2 separate regions of the Homo sapiens genome follow, and region 2 is linked to region 1. The links come from fine-mapping of genetic effects on gene expression. Tissue or cell type: whole blood. Region 1 holds a variant in brackets; the other region holds the start of a gene. All regions are shown on one strand. Distances are from middle to middle.

Region 1 (8,000 bases):
GTGGCACTTGCCTGTGATCCCAGCTACTCAGGAAGCTGAGGCAGGAGAACTGCTTGAACCCGGGAGGCAGAGCTTGCGCAACATTGTGCCACTGCACTCCAGCCTGGGTGATAGAGCAAGACTCCATCTCAAAAAAAAAAAAAAAAGACTATTCGGATTATCTATTTCATCTTGTGTCAGTTTTGTTTTCCAAGTAATTTGCCCACTTCACCTAAGCTGTTGAATTTGTTGGAATAAAATTGTCCCCATTTCACCTTTTTCGTGTCTATAGTGCCTGTAATGATATTTCCCCTTTTGTTCCTAATATTCATAATTTGTGTTTTCTTTTTCTGATTGATCTAGCTAGGGATTTCTCAACTTTGAAAACACCTTTTGGCATTGTTCATTTCCTCTATTGTCTGTTTCCTACCTTATTAATTTTTTTTTTTTTTTTTTTTTTGAGACGGAGTCTCACTCTGTTGCCCAGGCTGGAGTGCAGTGGCGTGATCTCAGCTCACTGCAACCTCCACCTCCTGGGTTCAAGTGATTGGCATGCCTCAGCCTCCCAAGCAGCTGGGACTACAGGTGTGCGCCACCGTGCCTGGCTAATTTTTTGTATTTTTAGTAGAGACGGGTTTCACCATGTTGGCCAGGCTGGTCTTGAACTCCTGACCTCAAGTGATCCACCCTCCTTGGGGTCCCAAAGTGCTGGGATTACAGGCGTGAGCCACCGCACCTGGCCTGCCTCATTAATTTCTGTATTTCTGTTCTTGTCTATACTATGGCTTTCCTTTATAGGTTTACAAACCTTCCATTTTTTTTTTTTTTTGGTTTCTTAAGGTAAAACCTTAAGATTCTAGACCTTTCTTCTTTTCCCATATAAGCACAAGCTAGTTTTCCTTTAAGGATTGCTTTAGCTGCATCCCATAAATTTTGACGTAGTATTCCTTATTTTCTAGTGAAATTCAGGTCAGAGATTCAGGAGGTGGAAGCTAAGGACCTGCCTGGCTGGGTGTGCTGGGTGGGAGGACAGGGGAGTGAGGAGAGGAGAATGACTGTCAACTTCTAGCCCAGTCATCTGGGTGGTTCCAGGTTCACCCACTGAAATGGGGAAAGACAGAAGCTGGTGTGTCTGGTTTGTCTGTGCCAAGTGAGGGGTGCATCCTGGGTCTCGGCAGGACACTCTGGCCTGATGCATGAGGTCTGGCCTCAAACCATAGAGCCGATGAGGTAGAGGATGAGGAGACAGACAGCAGGCGCCTGGGAACAGCATGGGCATGAGATAAGCACTCACAGAGGGTATATTGTTCTGGACCCCCCACACCTCCCTGCTGTCAGCCTTGTGGTTATTGGGCGCAGAAGCTGCCAGTCTAAACTCAAGTGTTGTAAATGTAAAACACCTGCTGGCTTTCCCAGACTCTACAAAAAAAAGAGTAAAAAAGATGTGACAATTTTTATATAGATTACATTGTTGAAATACTATTTTCAAAGTACATGGAGTGAAACGCAATACTTCATTAAAATGAATTTTACTTATTTCTTCTTAACTCTATATGTGGCTCACATAACACTCCTATTAAACAGTGCTGCCCTAGGAGAGTCCAGGGCCCTACCCACCCCTGCTGGATGAGAAGCTGCACTCTGCCAGGTCCCAGGGTACACCAGGGAGCCCTCTAGGTCGTGTACCGGCCCTAGGAGAGGCTTCGTGCCAAATCCCTGCACCATGGCCGGGACTGTGGCTCAGCATGAAAACCCTTCTTCCTCGGAGTCCCCCCACAGCTTTGCACCGTGGCCGGGCCTGTGGCTCAGCATGGAAACCCTTCCCCCTCGGGGTCTCCCCACAGCTTTGTGAACTGCTAGGGATGTCCCCTATCACTGCAGCTTCTGGCCGGAGGAGGATGGCCGGTGGCCTCGGCCTGGTCAATGCCAGTCCAGCTCAGTCTGGTACTGCGGTCCTGGGCCACCTGGGAAGACGCCAGGGAGGCCAGAGAGATCCTGGGTCAGGCCGCAGCCCTGCTCAGATCCCTCCGAGGCCCCAGGACTCCCCCTGGACTTCTGGGCGGCCCTGGGTCTCCCTTGGGCACCTGCGGGTAGTCCTGCCTTCTGGCCTCTGAACATCCAGGTGCCCCCCCAGCCCCCCACTCATGCCCTCTGTGTCTTTGCCCTCACCACAGTCGCCCAGCATGCTATCCCAGCCTGTCTCCCCACACACGGAGGAGCCGAGCCCTGACGCGAGAACAGAGGCGGAGCTCATCGTCCTCAGTGCCCAGACAAGGATCCCGAATGAGCAAACGGGGAAGGCCCAGGAGGTGGTGTTTCCAACACGCAGGGCAGGGCCTGGGGGAGGGACTGTGGCTATTCACCTGCAGTGAGGGGTCCAGAGAGACGGGGCCCTCGGACGAGGGTCTGCAGGCAGATGCCCACACACCAGGCGTGGATGCTGGGCCAGGTGCCGGGAGCCCACCCACGCTCACACCCCTCCCTCCCTGGGGGCTGCTCAGCGATGGCTCATGGACTTGGCCTGACCTGGGGAGGACCCAAGGGCCTTAGAGCTCCAGGCCCCTCGTGGGGTTGGCCCCACCGCCACAGTCTCAGTGTCACCCATCTTCCAGGAATCCACCCCGACCTCCCCTTCTCCTCCCCCAACAACAAACCAACCACTGCCCTCGTCTGCCGTGGGCTCTGCAGGAACACGCCTCGGCCTCTCCCAGAAGGCTCACGCCCTCCCCATAACCCCTTCTGCAGATGGGAGGGGACCAGCCTGCCTGTGCCAACAACAACAAGGTGGGCAGAGGCCCCCACAGAGGTGACCAGAGGGCTGATGGTCACTAAAGCACTGCACGCAGGCCCCAGTCTCCAGAGGGGTTCCTGAGGCAGCAACAGGGTCTCTGTAGTCGGGCAGCGGGCAGCCTCCCCCAGATCCCCACTGTCACCCCCCGGAAGACACCTCCATCCTCAACCTTCAGGCTGGGCTGCCCCCACCCCCTCTACAGCAGCCAGGACACAAGCCCATCTTCCTGGGCAGGCGCAGCCCCACTGAGTACCAACCCCTTCCAGAAACAAGGGAACAAGCCATGTTCCAACCAGGCCTCAGGCTCCAATCTGCTGCCTGTGATGGGAGCCAAATCCCACTTGCCGGAGGCCTCGCAGGCCCACAGCTGCATCTTCTGGTCAGCAAAGTGAGTCATAAAAATTAGAATTGACCACCAACATTTCAACATTGCCAAATCCAGAGAAACCTGGATTCCCAGCTCTTCAGAAACATCAAAGATCTGGCCACACGAAATCTGCATTTCCCAGGGCGACGCCTGGCAGCAGTGTCCCCACCAGGGCGCGGGCCCCAGGACACAACATGGATGTCCAGCACCATAGCGCCCTGGTGTCTCTGCCCTCCCCATGGCGGCACCCCGACCGCAAGCCAGTGCAGACAGTGGGTTCGAGCTGGAGGCTGCAGGGTCATGGCCAGGCCTCGAGAGCCCCTCTGGGTCCTGAATGTTTCCTCCACGGGTGTCCTCTGCACCCCCAGCTGTTGGCCACAGGGACCCAGGCTGCAGTTTCCAGCTCTCCTCAGCCCTCCCTGGCAGCCTGGCCTTCCCCATTAAGGGGCAGCCAAGTGCCACTGCTCAGCTCCAGCATGGATGGCCCCTCCCCACTCCCTCAGCCCGTTCAGGCCTGCCCCAGACATGGCTCTACTCACTCGGCCCCCTCTGTACTCACAGGAGCCCGGGGGTAGGGGCAGGGGCCTGAAAGTGGAAAGAGGGCAGGAGACTGTTTAAATCATCACTGTTCCCCACGCCTGACAACAGGGACGTCTGAAGGCAACTTCAGCCCCTCTGCGGGGCAATGGCTTGTGTGGGTGACTCTGAGATGGCACCGCCCTCCAAGCCCGCACCCCAAGTGTGCCAGGTCCAGCCTGGAGCTCAGCCAGGGCGCTGCAGCCAGGACTCGGCCCCTCCATGCCCCGGCCTTCCGTGAGCAGAACACAAGCACCTGACAGGCTGTGCAGAGGATGCTGGGCTGAACCATGCTCCCTCACGCGTGCCCAGGCCATGCAGAGGACTCTGAGCTGAACCACCCTCCCTCACCAGTCCCCAGGACACTGATCCCGGGGATGGGTGCCCCCCAGGCATGAGCCGAGAGGGGGGTCTCGACCCCTGTCACACTGGCCCACACAGTAGCCTTGCGGTGGGGGGATCTGGAGGCCGGTGCCCCCATGCTGAGCACAGTACAAACCCCCATTCCAGGCCTCAGATGGGTGGGCAGGAAGGTCAGGAACAGATGCTCCAGGTCTCCCCTCTGTTCGGTCAGAGTGCAATGAATCCCGAGCCAAGCCCAGCACAAAAGCCCTTTGTGGGAATAAATCACGTAAGACACATGCTCGTCTGTTTAAATTACAAACGCTGATGCTGTTATAAAAAATAGTGGCACGGCACTTTTTATTTTCTTTAATCAGAAAAATAAGCCCTGCGCTTCTGGGATGGAGGCCCCAGGTGAGCACCGGAGGAAGGGGCCCGGGTGGGTGGGGAGCGAGGGGGCCCGGAGGCCAAAGCAGATGCTGCACCAGAGGCTGGTCAG[G/A]ACCCGGGAGGGCCTGCGGGGGTGGGGTCCTCATGAGCAAGTGCGGGGTGCTGGAGGTCAGCAGCTGCCTGGCCTGGGAGCCAGGGACACCCATCCCCTTCCTGACACCTGAGGCAGCCCAGCTGGGCAAGACCAGGCCTGCAGGACCAGAGCCTCCTGTCACGTGGCGCAGGGGTCCAGGTGGTCAACGCTGCTCTCTGGAGGACCACTGGTTAGAGCCTGCCCAGCTCCCCTGAGGTCTGGAGACAGTCAAAGCCCCCCCAAACACCCCCTCCCTTTTGGGCGAGTGGCGTGCCTTGGACTCCAGAAGACTCGAGTGGGGCTGCCTTGAGACCAGGTCCTGAGGGGGTGGCAACACCTGACCACAGGTGGGGGCCGTGGAAGGGGCAGGGATGGGCCCAGGGGTAGCCTTGTAGTGTGAGGTGTGCCCGACCACATGTAGGTCAACAGCCAGACGGGACGCTGCAGGGGACTGTGGGGAAGCCGGGAGAAGGCGCTGCCCACCCTGTGGGGTCCCCCTCGCCTGGAGACCCTGCAGGCAACCCTTCAGTGCATGCCCACGGGGGTGGTGGAGGCAGAGTCCTGAGAGGTGGGGGTGGGAGCCTCCGGGTCCCCTGCAGGTCCTGACCCACCAGATGGGCCCATGTGCCCCCTGTAGCTTGGGGGCCCTGGAGGTGGACACCAGCACCTCCTGACTACCAGGGGGAGGGCCTGGACTGAAACCCACACCTTCACCATTCGCCACTGGGCCACTCTGCAGGAACTGCAGCACCCCACAGATCCTTCATGCCCAGCACGCCACTCACTCTCACACCCTCTCGCACACATGCACACACAGCACGCACACACCAGGCTCACGCGCTCCGCACAGGTGGCACGCCAGGGGCAAGCGTGCACGTAGACTCAGAGATGCAAGGACAGTATTGGCAATTCAGAGGCACAGAAAGACGCTGAGGGGCCCCCAGCAAGGTCCCCGCCCTCAGGGGCTGTGTTCCCCTCCCAGGGCACGCACACCACAGGCAGCAACGCGGGTGGGGGCACTGTGACGCCAGTGGGGGGAGAGGGAGCATGGCGGGGCGGCAGGCAGACGCGGGTTCATCTCTCTTCCTGGTGTGGTGAGCCTCAGCCTGATCGTGGCACTGTAGGGGCTCCCGCCTCTGGCCGAGCCTCAATTTCCAACGACAAACAGCTCAGCCCTGTCTAGACAAGGCCTCAGGCTAGTCCGGCAAAGCATCTCCAGCCCGAAGGGCAATGCGGCCTTGGCCCTTGGGGCCCTGCCAGGGTGCAGATCACACTGGAGTGGGCTGGAAAACCCATATGGGGAGGTGCCTGCAGGCATCAGGCTCCAGGGCTCACAGATGGGGCCTGACGGGCCATCCCGGGGGCACAGGATCGGGTCCACCGGGACCGCAGGGGCCGGCAGGGATGGCCCAGGGCCAGGAGCGAGAGCCGGGGCTGACGGGCCGGCACCAGATCCAATAGGGACCGCCGCGGCTGGCACAGGAGCCCCAGGAGAGGCCGGCAGGGTGGGCCCGGCTGCCCCAGGAGTGAAGGGCGATCGGGAATGGGGAGCAACGGCTGGGGTTTGCAGGGCTTGTTGGGGCCCATGAGCGGCCGCAGGGGCTGGCAGGGCTGCTCTGGGCCCATGAGCGGCCGCTTGGGTGGGCAGGGCTGCTCCGGGCCCATGAGCGGCTGCTTCTGCTGCCTCGGCCGTCCCGGGCCCAGGAGTGAAGGCGTGAGTGGGCCGGGCTGCTCTGGGGCTTCCACTAACCGCTGGGGCTGCCTGGGGCGCAGCAGCGACCGCCGGGGGCGGCTGGGCTGGCCCAGCAGGGACCTTCGGGGCTGGCCGTACTGACACGGGGCTAGGAAGGCCCGCCGGGGGCAGCAGCACTGTCCTGGGAGGAAGCTGGCGGGCCGTCGGCGTGGTCGGAGGGTGAGGAGTGGCCGCGGGGGCTGGTACCGCTGGCACTGGGCTAGCAGCGACCACAGGGGCCGGCTGCGCTGTCCTGAGGATGCCCTACCGGGCTGGCCACAGTGACACGGGCTGGCCCACGGCCGCAGGGGTCGGCAGCGGTGCCACAGGGTCAGCAGGGACCGCAGGCGCCTGCAGCGGTGCCTTGGGGCCAGGAGGAACCGCAGGCGCCGGCAGTAGAGGCAGGGGACCAGGAGGGACCGTGGGGCCAGGAGGGACCGCAGGCGCCGGCAGTGGTGACACGGGGTCAGCAGGGACCGCAGGCGCCTGCAGCACTGCCTGGGGCCTGGGAGTGCCCAATGCGGCCGGCAGGGCTGGGCCGGGCGTGACCGCTGGGGCTGGCAGAGCTGATCTGGGGATGGAAGGAGCCGCTGGGGCCGGCAGGGCTGACCGGGGCCCAGAAGTGACCGCCGGGGCTGGCAGGGCTGTTTCAGGCCCAGAAGTGACCGCTGGGGCCAGCTGCGCTGACCCAGGAGTGGCCGCTGGGAGGGCTGGCAGGGCTGCCCAGGGTCCGGGAGTGCCGACGGGGCTGGGAGGGACCCCTGGGGCTGGCTGGACTGGCTGGGCTGGAGCTGTTGCTGGCGCTGGGCCGGGCCGTTCTGGTCCCAGTGGCTGGCTGGGAGCGGCCCCCCTTCTGGGGAGCACACCTGCATGGAAGAAAGAGCACGTGTCCACCTGGGCAGGTGTCACCGCCCGCGGAACCCCCGTCCAGCCCGGGCCCAGGAGGCATGCTGCCCTTCTCCAGCAGCCCAATTCCCAAGGGGGCCGAGGAGAGCCGAGGACACCGCGCAGAGCCCCACCCTGGAAGGAAGGCGCACACCAGCGGACCCCCGCGGAGGAAGCAGCTGCAGGCTGAGCTGCACCCAGGACAGAGCCCCACGCGCTGGGGAAGCCCCCACCTGCTCTGACAGCCCCTCCTGGGCAGGAGGCCCCTGGGCAGGGCAGGCAGAGCCCTGTTCCCAGCTGGGCCACGCACCTGACCACTGACCACAGTCACGTGCCTGCAGCCACTGCCGGGACCAAGTATTCCCTTCCCCACGCCGCACACGTGAGCGGATGGCGCTGCGTGTGGACAGGACAGCCCTCGGCAATGAGCCTGGACCCCCTCCTTATAGACACTCTGGACACCTGTAGTCGGCGGAGCCTGATGGACACGGCAGGGAAACGGGGCCGGCCTATCAGCTTGGCGCCCCAGCCCGGAACGCGCGCCTTGCTGCCCCAGACAGGCACCTCTCCTGCTGTGGCCCTGGGCACGTCACGGCCCCTCCGTGACCCAGCCGGCTCCTGCCTCTGCTAGGCCCCAGCCCTGTCCACGTGTCCTGCACCCCAAGCCTGACAACGATGGGCGCGCTGCCAGGCAGGCCCGGGGGCCACGTGGCGTGGTGTCCAGGTGCTGGCATGGCCCTGGGGCGGTGAGCACTGACCCGCCGCAGAGCTTCCGGTCGGGGAGGGACCTGCTCACCTGCTTGGAGGG
Region 2 (10,399 bases), 23 kb after region 1:
CCCACAGACAGCCCTGGGAGGCCGGGGGCCGCACACGATCAGTAGCCTGGGGTTTCTTAAGCACAACCGTCTGTGCAGGTTCAGCAGCATTTTGGGTGCATGTCCTGTGGTTTATGCTGAGCAGAGAATGTGGAAGCACAGGCGTTAGAGGAGACCGCTGGCCACCGAGCCAGGAGGCTGGGTGCTTTCCTTCCGCCTTTATTCCTGGGACACACGTGGACCTTCTGCGTGGCCCGTGTGCCAGTCAGGGAACAGCTCAAGCTTCAGCACGCACCTTCTTATGGAGCTTGACGTGTGGACCAAGTGAAAGTCACCAGGTGAAAGTGATTTGCTGTTTGAAAAATGCAAATTAACCAAAAATCACAGACACCAAACCAGAATGGTGGTGTCCGCCTGGAGCTAGTGGCCAATGTGCTCCTGGGCACCCTGCCACCTCCCTGTGGCCCAGGCGCAGCCCAGAGCACCATGGCCAGCGTCACTGGGGCCGAGCGGCCAGCATGTGGGAGTGGGCGGTGCAGCCCACTGGGCTAAGCAGGCCTGGCCTATCTCCCAGGAGACACAGGGACCGGCACAACCTGTTCTGTGGCCTGAGGCCAGATAAGGATGGCCTTTGCTATGTGGGAAGATGGGGTCTGACACAGCCCTGGATACACCTCTCAGACCCCAGTCTTCTTGGGAGGACCCCAGGCAGAGAACAGCAGCACTGACCAGGCACGTATGGCCACAGCACTGCTCCAGGGGTAGGGGGCTTCCAGTGTCCTCTGGTCAGTACAACCAGGGGACAGAGTTGTCACAGGAAACAAAAGGGACAGCAAGAGCCACGTTCCCAAGCACCCAGAGTTCCCGGTCAGAACAAGAGCAGGGGAGAGGCCAGCGGGGCTTCCTCAGGCCTCCTGTCCCCACATACCACGGCCCCTGGTTACAGAGTAGAAAGTCAAGCGGGGGCTGGCTCAGGTCTGCCGCGCCGCCCCACCCACCCCAGCACACCCAGCCCAGCACGCCCCTCTGCAGGTCCTCAGCCCTGCCACAGGGCTCCCATCTCTATGGGCAGTTAATCATTAATGCTGTCTCCAGGGCTGCAGGCACACCCTGAGCCAGGCCAGACCCTGGCCCTCCTCAGCCCACAACCACCACCACCACCATTTAGGGAGTGCCTGCTGTGTTCACAGCACACACAGGCCCAGGACAAGCGGGGACTCCTCCTCCCCTACAGGAGCACATATAAATGTGCAGATGCTGGGGGCCTGCCCCGGGCACAGAACGGCCTATGTGTCCCACCCAGGGTACACAAAGGGGGCGGGGGCCTGCCCCGGGCACAGAACAGCCTGTGTGTCCCATCCAGGGCACAGAAAAGGGGCAGGGACCTGCCGGGGGCACAAAACAGGTACAGAGACCTGCCCCGGGCACAGGGCAAGGGGTGCCTGTTCAGACAGGCGGAGAGGGTGGTCTGCCTGGGGTCAGAAGGGGCTGCGAGTGGGGGTCTGCCCCAGGGGCCAGGGCTGGGGCCGAGAGTTGGTCCCAGTGTGTGTGGGGTCTGGGGTGAGGTAACAGGACTCCTGCAGGCAGGCTGCACCTCCCCGGCAAGTCTACACCTGTGTTTGGTTGTTTATACCACTGCAGTGTCCCGCGGGCACAAGCCAGCCTCTGGGGTTACAAGGGCTTCCTCCAACTCCTGAGCGTCCCATCCTCCAGCATCCCAGAGTAGGAAGAGCCCTCAAGACGCGGGTGGGGGCAGAGGGACTGTGAGCAAAGGCGGCAGAGCCAAGGGCAGGCTGTGCCTCTGGGCTGGGTCCTGGTGGCCACATCTCCCTCGGTGTCCCGTGTGGGTGGCCTCGCAGGGCAGCGCCCGCTCACTCTAAGGCCGGACAGGCGTGGCACCCAGTGCTCCTTGCTCTTGCTCTGCCTCAATGGGGAGCCTCAAGGTCCCCATCTGTGGAATGGGGGCATCCAGCCCTCCTCGTGGGTCATTTGAGGAGTAAATGAGTTGATGTCTGTGAAAGGCAGCTCAGAACACTGCCTGATGGAGAGAATGCTTACTGAACCAGTCACTACTATTGATATAATTATGAATTATCTGAACTTTGGGGAAAAACCACCATACTTTGGCAAAAAATGTAGACAACCAAGAGACACGTATGGGATGATCACGAGGTTATGACTTGTGCAGAAGCCCCGTACTTTCCCAGGCAGGCTCCGAAGGGCAGAGGAAGGGACATGAAACCACCCTGGGGTGCTGTGGCTGTGTTAACGCCACGCAGCAGCAGACTTGTCTCACTATGACCTGAGGGGCCAGCTGGTCTAAGCCGAAGTCACCAAAACCCACTGAACCCACTGCCTGCAGGCTGGGGGCACGTGACCCTGCCAGAGCAGGTGGACAGCCAGTCAGAGCCGCTGCGGGCAAAACACGTGGGCCTGGGATTGGCCCTGGATCTCCTGAGTACAGTTCATCTCCTCACTCAGATTCCTGACACACGCATCTGGGGCACTTTCTACACATCGAGCTCTTCCCGGCACCAGACCCCATAGGAGACACACAGGACAGCACAGTGTCTGCTCTCTTTCAGCTTACAAGTTCTTGTGGGAGACGAAAATGGAGAGCAAAGACATTCTAAAACAGCTTTGCAGAGTGGGGATGACAAAAAGAAGGTGGGCAACGTCGACGGGGGTGGGGGGCACCACTTCAGAGGAGTCTGAGGTGACGTTTTTGCAAAGACACAATGGCACCAAACATAAAGCAGACAGAGAACGGCAGGGTACAAGGGCTGACCCGCTCGGAGCAGTGAGGAAGCCGCGGTTAGGGACCCAGGAGGTGCAGGTGGGTGGCGACAGCTCTGGAAAGTGGGCATCCTCGTGGTCTCAGCTGCAGTGCAGGAGCCGAGCGCAGGGCCTGGCTTGCAGTATTGCTCAGTACACGTACAGTCTGTGTCATTATCACCACTGAGAGGGCAGAAGACAGCCCCAGGGCCATCCCGTCCCAGCACAGAGCAATGGCGTGTGCCAGCCCTGGAGCCATCTAATAATGTGCAGGACAGAGGATGGCCAGCCTGTGTGATGAGCCTGGCCACCACCCACCCCGTCCTGGGCCCACAGGAGCCCCAGCTCTGTCCGTGCACTTGGGACACGAAGCCCCAGCTCTGACTGTGCACTCGGGACACGATGCGGCACCTGTTCTGGGGCCACTTCCCTGGCCACCGGCCCTGACCCAAGGCTCTCTACAGTCCCCAGAGTTTGGATGAGAACTTGAAGAGGACTTGCTGCTTCAGGGGCCTGCAGTAGGCATCTCCCCTTTTCCCAAAGCTCAGCTTCTGAGACTGGGGGATCCCAGGCCATGGGCTCCCAAGCCCCTGGAAAAGTGAGAGGGGTTGGAAATGGGGTGATTCTGGGAGTCAAAGTCCAGCAGATGAGGGTCCCCCAAAGTAAGTGCTGCACGGGGCACACCTCGCTGGGCGGGTCTCGGCCCTGGTGCAGGGCAACTTGCTAGCATTCCTGCCCATGCCAGTCCTGGGGAGACAGCGCCTGCCCCAACTCTCAGACAGCATTTAATTTCCTTCTCTGCTCAGCTGAGTTCATGTAAGAGGAGCAGTATTTGCTCAGCAAATACTGTCCGTCAGCCAGACAAGCAATATTTTTGGCCAATCTATTAACCATGCAGCAGGCAGCAGTCACCAAGAGGGGTCTTGAGATTAACCCTCCTTCTCCCCTTCTCAGCAGAGCCCTCGAAGGGAGGAGGGAACGGGATGGCCCGCGGAGTATCCATTTTATCACCACCTCCCTAAGATCCAGCACTGCTCCCTAGCACGTCCTGAACCAGGCAGAGCGATATGCTGGCCACAGAAACACAACTGATAAAAGGCCGACGGTGCTGTCAGACAGCCCCCAATTTCGAAGCGTAGATTTTTTTGCCTCTGCAACTTAAAACGTCCCCAAACCCACCCGACGCTGCTGGGTCTTCCAGATGCGACGGTCTGGGCGAGCGGTGGGCACCCAGGGTCCCTGGAACGGGTACCAAGTGGCCGGGGCTTCCCTCAGGGCTGCCCACGGCGCGGGCGGTCGCAAGCCCAGGGGTCCCGGGATCGCCCGACGCGTCAACTCCGGGCCCCGTTCTCGCCTCAACGCCTGCGAAGCCGCACCCGTCCACCTACCTCCAGGGCCTCCAGGGTGCTGAAGCTGGCGATGGCGAAGCCGTCGATGACCTCCTCCTCCTGCGAGCTGGACTCGCGGCGGCGGCGGCGCGGGGGACGCGCGGTGCGGGGCGCGGGGGCGGCGCCTCGGGGGGGCGCGCCGCGGAGGCCCGCGTTCTCCTTGCCGGGGCTGGGCTCGGGCTCGTCGCCCGACGACGGACTCTGGGCGCGGGCGTCGCGGGCGGCCTCCCGGCGCCGGCCACGGTCCCGCTGCGCGCGCGAGCGCCGGCTCGGGCGGACCTTGGCCTCCATGGCCGCGCGTGCGCCCCGTCGGGCCGGTGACCTTGACGCCCCGCGCCTGGCTCGCAGCAGGCGGGCTCCCTCGGCTACGCGGCGCCGCCGGGCTGAGTGTGCGCCGCGCGGGCTCGGGCCCTGGGCGGCGGCGGGCGGCGGGCCGGGCCGGGCATGCCGGGCGCGGGGGGCGGCTCAGCCCCGGGCCCGGCGCGGCCTGGGACCCCCGGCGCGGGCGGCTGGGCGCATCGGCGGGGGCGGGCCCGGCGCTCAGCGGCCCTCGGCCGCCCCCCCGGGGGCGCGCCCCATGCGCGCGGCGCGGCGATCGGGCCGAGCGGGCGGGGCCGGGCGGGCGCGGCAGGCGGCAGGCGGGAGGCGGCCGGGCTCCTGGGCACCGGGCTCGTGAGGCGGCGGCGGCGCCCCGAACAGATAACAACTGACGCACTTCCGCCCGGCTGCGCTCGCCAGAGGAAGTGAGGGCCGCCGCGGGCGCCCGCGCGCCCCGCCCCGACCACGCCCCTGCCCCGCCCCGCTCATAAGGCTCCGCCCCCACCCCGCACACGCGGCCCGCCCCGCTCACAAGGCTCCGGCCCCTCCCCGCCCCATTCACGCAGGCCCCGCCCCCCGCAGGCTCCGCCCCCTCCCCGACCCGCTCACGCAGGCCCCGGCCCCGCCCCTCCCGGGCGCTCCCGCTAATTCAGGCCCCGCCCCACCCGCAGGTGCCCGCCCTTCGACCTCGCCCCCTAGCCGCGCCCCTCCCCGGCGCCCCGACCTCCGCTGCAGCCGGCGGTGATCCGCTCGGCTCCTTCCTGGGAGGGCGCTGGGATGCCGCGGCCCCTCCGTGGGCACCTGCGGGCGGCGCTCTCCAAGCGGGAGGCGGGGGCAGCGCCGCCCTCCTCTGCGGGACTGGGGTCCCCGGCCGCGGGCGGCTTCCGAGGAGGACGAGGGGCCTCCGGTCTCGCGGAACCGAAGTCCTGCCCTCGGCGAGCGTGGAAGGGACGGGGAAGGGGCGGGGAGGACCGGGGGAGGGTCCTCGGCCAGGCGGTGCCCCCTCCCCGCGTCCCCGCGGACCCTCCCAGGCCTCCTAGGATGCGGGAGGGGTCTGTCCGCGTCCCCGCCCCGCGCCACGTGCCCCCAAGTCCCACAAGAAGGCGGCTCCCGCCACCGAGACCCCCGGGAACGCGCCCAGCGAGGCGGGGGCTGCTGCCAGACACGGAGCGCAGTGTGGAGGGCGGCGCGGGCAGGAAGCGCACGGAGGCGGCTGCGGTTGCGAGGCAGGCGCGGGGCGAACTTCCTCCTCCACCCCCAGGACAGGCCGAGCTCGGAGGGGCCCGCCTGGTGGGGTTTTCTGAGCCCAGGGGCCCCTTGCGCGTGGGCACTGGAGTCATTGATTCATGCAGCGCGTATTTGCCAGATGCCTCCTGTGTCCAGGCTCTGTTGGTGACCCCGCAGCGGCTGAGATAGACTACCCTCTTAGAAGTGGGAGAGAGACCCTGAACACAGGGCCAAATAGAATATCAGCCAAGGATAATCTGAAGAAAATCGAACGGGGAGGTGTCACAGAGAGTGGGCATTGGGTGGTCCAGAGGGCCTCCCCGAGGAGTGACGACTCCGAGCCCCAGCAGTCATGGGCACCCTGTTTCAGGTCGGGGCTACACCCCTGCACAGGCCCTCGGAGAAGAATGGTGGTTTGCTGGAGGGCGGAGGGGAGGGTGCCCAAGACAGTGGTGGGACCCTGCCCTCGGTTGCCCTTAGTGGGAACGGGTCCTCGCCCACTCTGCGGGGTCCACTTTACCCTGCCTCTGGGAGAGCCTACTGGCGGCCTCTTGTGCAGGGCAGGAAGGGTGTGGTCCAGGCACCACTGGCTGTTTGCTGGGCTGAGGCAGTTGGGAAAGTAGCTCACTGGGGTGGGGGGACTTCCTGTTCACCCAGCCTCCTCCAGTCCACCCAGCCCGCTCTCTGGTTCCCTGTCAAAGCCTCCCCAGGGTGGGGGCAGGGTCCCCCTCCCCCTCTTCCCATTCCGGGTTTTGTTAAACCGTGGTTTCACCCTCCAGCATCCTCCCTTTTGATTTTTAAAAGCCTCATTAGGAAGACAGAAACGGACCCCGAGTAGTTTCTCCATGCACGCCTGCTCCCGAATTCCCCTCCCTGGACAGAAGGCCAGGAAATGTGGGCGAGGGTCACCCAGGTGGCATTTGAGGCTCTTGTTTAAATACAGGCCTCTTCCCAAGTAGCCTGGGAGTCCTCACCTGTTCCCCGAGGCTCCCAGAGGCCATCCCACCCTAGGCTGGGCCCAGAGGTCAGTCAGACTGCAAGGGGCATCCTGTGGGCACCCCCTCCCCCCCAGAAGAATTGCTTGGGAAGGTCTGAGGTTTTGGATTTGAAGTTTCTTTCTCTTTTTCTTTTTCTTTTTTTTTTTTTGAGACAGATCTCACTTTGTCACCCAGACTGGAGTGCAGTGGCGTGATCTTGGCTCACTGCAGCCTCCGTCTCCCGGGTTCAAGCCATTCTCTTGTCTCAGCCTCCCGAGTACCCAGGACTACAGGCCTATGCCACCATGTCTGACTAATGTTTTGTATTTTTAGTAGAGATGGGGTTTCGCCATGTTGGCCAAGCTAGTCTCGAACTCCTGACCTCAGGTGATCTACCCGCCTCAGCTTTCCAAAGTGCTGGGATTACAGGCGTGAACCACTGTGCCCAGCCTGAAGTTTCTGATTATAGACATACACTGTTTGTTTATCTGATCTCCGAAGATGTTCAGATGTGTGACCCCAGTGAAGGGCAGGGGCTCTGTAGACCTCCTCAGGGGCTTCCTTTTTGGGCTCCCCCCCGGGTTTCCCTGGCTGTCCTGGGGAAGGCGTCCCCAGGTGCCTTCTCTCCTTTGATCCATTTCCAGGTGTCCAGATGGCCAACCAGGGACCAGCCGCCATCTCTGGAGTTCTGGGCTCAAGTGCTCCCCAGGGACCAGCCGCCGATGCTGGAGTTCTGGGCTCAGGTGCTCCCCAGGGACCAGCCGCCGTCTCTGGAGTTCTGGGCTCAGGTGCTCCCCAGGGAGGGCTTGCTTTGGGAACCTTCTCTTACAGAAGAAAGCAGCTGGGCTACGTGCTGGATGGGAAGCCCTTGGGAGGGATGGTGGTTCTGGGGGTGGTTCTGGGGGTGGTTTCTGACAGATGCGTACTTGCCTGCTTGCGGACCGGGCTGTGTGTCTCCGGGAGCACGCATCACAGTGACCGGACATCCCACCCAGGACTCCGAACCTCCCTGGGGCTTGCCAGGGCCCTGGGCAGAGCTTGCAGCACGAACCCCACCCCCCACACTCCCACTGACTTCTTGGTGTGGTGCAGGTTGGACCTCCTGTGCTTGTTTGGTTTTTCAGTTTGTGTGCTCACACATCTGCCCTCTCTTGCCCCGGGCAGGATGGGGTGCTTTGGAAGGTAGAGACTGCAGCGGTTAGGAGACCTCCAGGCCAGTGGCCTGCAGAGCTCGGAAGTGGAGGGAATGGCTGGGTTGTCCGGACGGTGGCCGCCAGCCACGAGTGGCTCAAGCCTCTGCAGTGTGGCAAGTGCAGCTGAAGAACTGGATTATACATTTTACTTACAGACTTTAATCTAAAATATAATAGCCTGTGGGGCTGGTGGCTACCATGCTGGACAGGGAAGTTCTAGACCGGCTCGCCTGGGCCCCAGCCTCAGCTGTGCCACCCACTTAGAATATTTTGGGCAAATGATTTAACGTGCTTCCATCGTCCCGTCTATAAAGTGGGGGTGGCGTGGCGATGAGGCGTCCCGCCGTCGGGGGTGTGAAAGCCCCTGGGTGTGTGTGAATCGGTGTGTGAGTCAATGGAGGCCTCAGACCCACGACGGGAGGGAGGTGTGAGCACACACAGCTGAGCCCACCCCAGGGTTCCCCACCCCTCACGTCTGAGGTTCTCTGGGGCTGGTCGGGGACCACACTCTGGGAACCATGGGTTTGAATGCACCACAGTCAGGGCCCTGGTACAATCAGGGCCGTAGGTGGGTGCTCATCAAGCCCTCCAGCCCCTCCCCACCCTCTTCCCCAGCTCTTGCCAGCAAAACCCCTTTTCTCTCCACTCTGCTGGAGGCCCACAGCTCCTGCCCACAACTCCTTCCCAGCCCCTAGGGCTCAGCTCTCTGGCCCCACCACCAGCCCAGGTCCCTTTCCTGCTCACGCCACACCCCTTAGCTCTCATCCTTCCAACCAGCCCGGGTCCCTTTCCTGCTCACGTCACACCCCTTAGCTCTCATCCTTCCAACCCGCCCGGGTCAGAGCCCTGAGTGGTGCTATGAGCATCGGTGGGCTCCGGGATGGCACATCAGCTCCTCCATCGTAGCCACTGGCCTTTGCTTTAGAGAGTCCTTCCCTGCCATCTGTAAGGCTCTGTGCAAAGTTAATTGATGTGAAATTGTATTCAAAATTCAATTTGGGGCAACGGATCCAAATTAGGCTCTATAAATCAGCTAAGCCATTTGCCCTTTGGGTTTCAAACTTGCCTGTGGGGTGACAGCCAAAAAGTAGAAAGTATGTTCCATTTCTTGCAGCCCCCAGCCCCATCTGTGAGCCGGCTGTCAGCTCCAGCCCTCCGCATGCACCCCTCTTCCTTCCCGTAATGGCACCTCAGTGTATTTTGGATGCATAGTCTGCTCTTGTGGGTGCCGTCTGGTGACACAGCAGGTCCTAAGGCCCCATGCTCCCCTAGAAAAGGAACAAAGGAACGTCAGTCAGCTCTTGCTTGGAGAACGCTGTGTAACAAACAGCCCCTGGGCCCTCAGTGACAATGCCTTGCTCACAGGGTTGCAGGGTGACAAGAGGGGCTTTGCTTCTTCATTTGGACTTTGGTTAGGCCCAGCTATAATCCACTGGCCTCTTTCTGTGGGATGCAGGCGTTCATTCTCCCTCAGTGGCTCAGGAGGCTGAGCAGAGCCATATAAACCTAGGAGAAGCCCGTGCTTGAAGCCTCATGTTGTGTCTGTCAAGGAAGTTTCAAGGCTAGGACCAGCCTCCACGGGGCAGAGAAGTCGTGCTTTCTGCTCTGGTGGGGTGTGATGGCTCAGTTTGTCATGCAGGTGACCCAGGTGACACCAGTCAGGTGGCCTCTTCCTGGCATTGCAGTTAGAATGTGCCTTGAGCCACATGTCAAGGCAATTGAGTGTTTGGAGTCCTCAACGTGCCCCCTTCCAGTCATCCTGCTCCTGAGGATGTGCTGTTGCCTGGTTCCGAGCCTGCTGCAGCTCTGCGGGCCGCCCCCTCCCTGTTCACCCAGGGGAGCAGGCGTGTTCCCTCCGCAGGGGCTTGAGACCTGCCGTCCTTTCCCCTGGACCCTCCCTCTCCCCCAAGCCCTAACCCAATGCCACTCCTTCCTGAGGCTGATGGTGGCTTTGCGTGAGGTGGGCCCTGCTGAGCAGCAGAGAATTTCTTAGAATTTTCATCGCCAGATGGCTCTGGGTTAGGGCTGACCACAGAAAACCAGCAGGCATGTTGGAAAGCAGGAGTGGAATGCAGAAGGCAGAGGGAGCCACACGGAGCAGCCAGGTTACACTCCTGCCGTCGTGTGACTGCTGCAGACCCCCTGTCCCCGCACCTCAGCGGGCTTGGGCCGTTCCAGGCCTGCAGCACCGTGGGCTCCAGCCACCTCCTGCCACTGCCCCTCCCAGTCTGTGTCAGGAGCACTGGAGTCTCCCAGTCAGTTCCTCAGGACGCTATGTCACCGTCATGATGTCCGTGAGCTCCCATGCGCCTGGCTCTCCCCGTTACCACACTTACCTTTCTCTCCTGGCAGCCACTCCCTGGCTCTCCTTGGAGAGTGTTTCAGCTGGCCATGCTCCGTGTGCAGTGTGAGAGTGCACAAGCTTGCACAGGTGCTCACACCAGAAAGGGACGTTGCAGGTTGGGAGGAGGGTCCTTGTGCCAGGCCCTGGCCCCCGAGTCTGCCCCTTGCAGTGGGGTGCCCAGCCTGGTGTGGGGTCAGG

The links. PIP is the estimated chance that this variant, and not a neighbour inherited with it, causes the effect.
Region 2: it holds the start of FBRSL1, and the variant in region 1 is fine-mapped to the expression of FBRSL1 in whole blood (GTEx, PIP 0.98). The same link has a PIP of 0.9 or more in CD4 T cells.

What each region holds. Positions count from the first base shown.
Region 1 is chr12:132,508,339-132,516,338 of GRCh38, reverse strand. FBRSL1 (fibrosin like 1) reads right to left here. Exons shown (of 19, transcript NM_001367871.1): 2 at 7,989-8,000. Among named protein-coding and RNA genes, the nearest start is that of FBRSL1, 22 kb to the right of the region's middle. The variant G/A (reference allele first, on the strand shown) is at 4,555.
Region 2 is chr12:132,484,605-132,495,003 of GRCh38, reverse strand. It overlaps FBRSL1 (fibrosin like 1), which reads right to left and starts at 4,853. Exons shown (of 19, transcript NM_001367871.1): 1 at 4,143-4,853. The coding sequence starts at 4,433. RefSeq lists enhancers at 2,419-2,488, 3,202-3,765, 5,763-5,892 and silencers at 4,923-5,372, 5,503-5,572.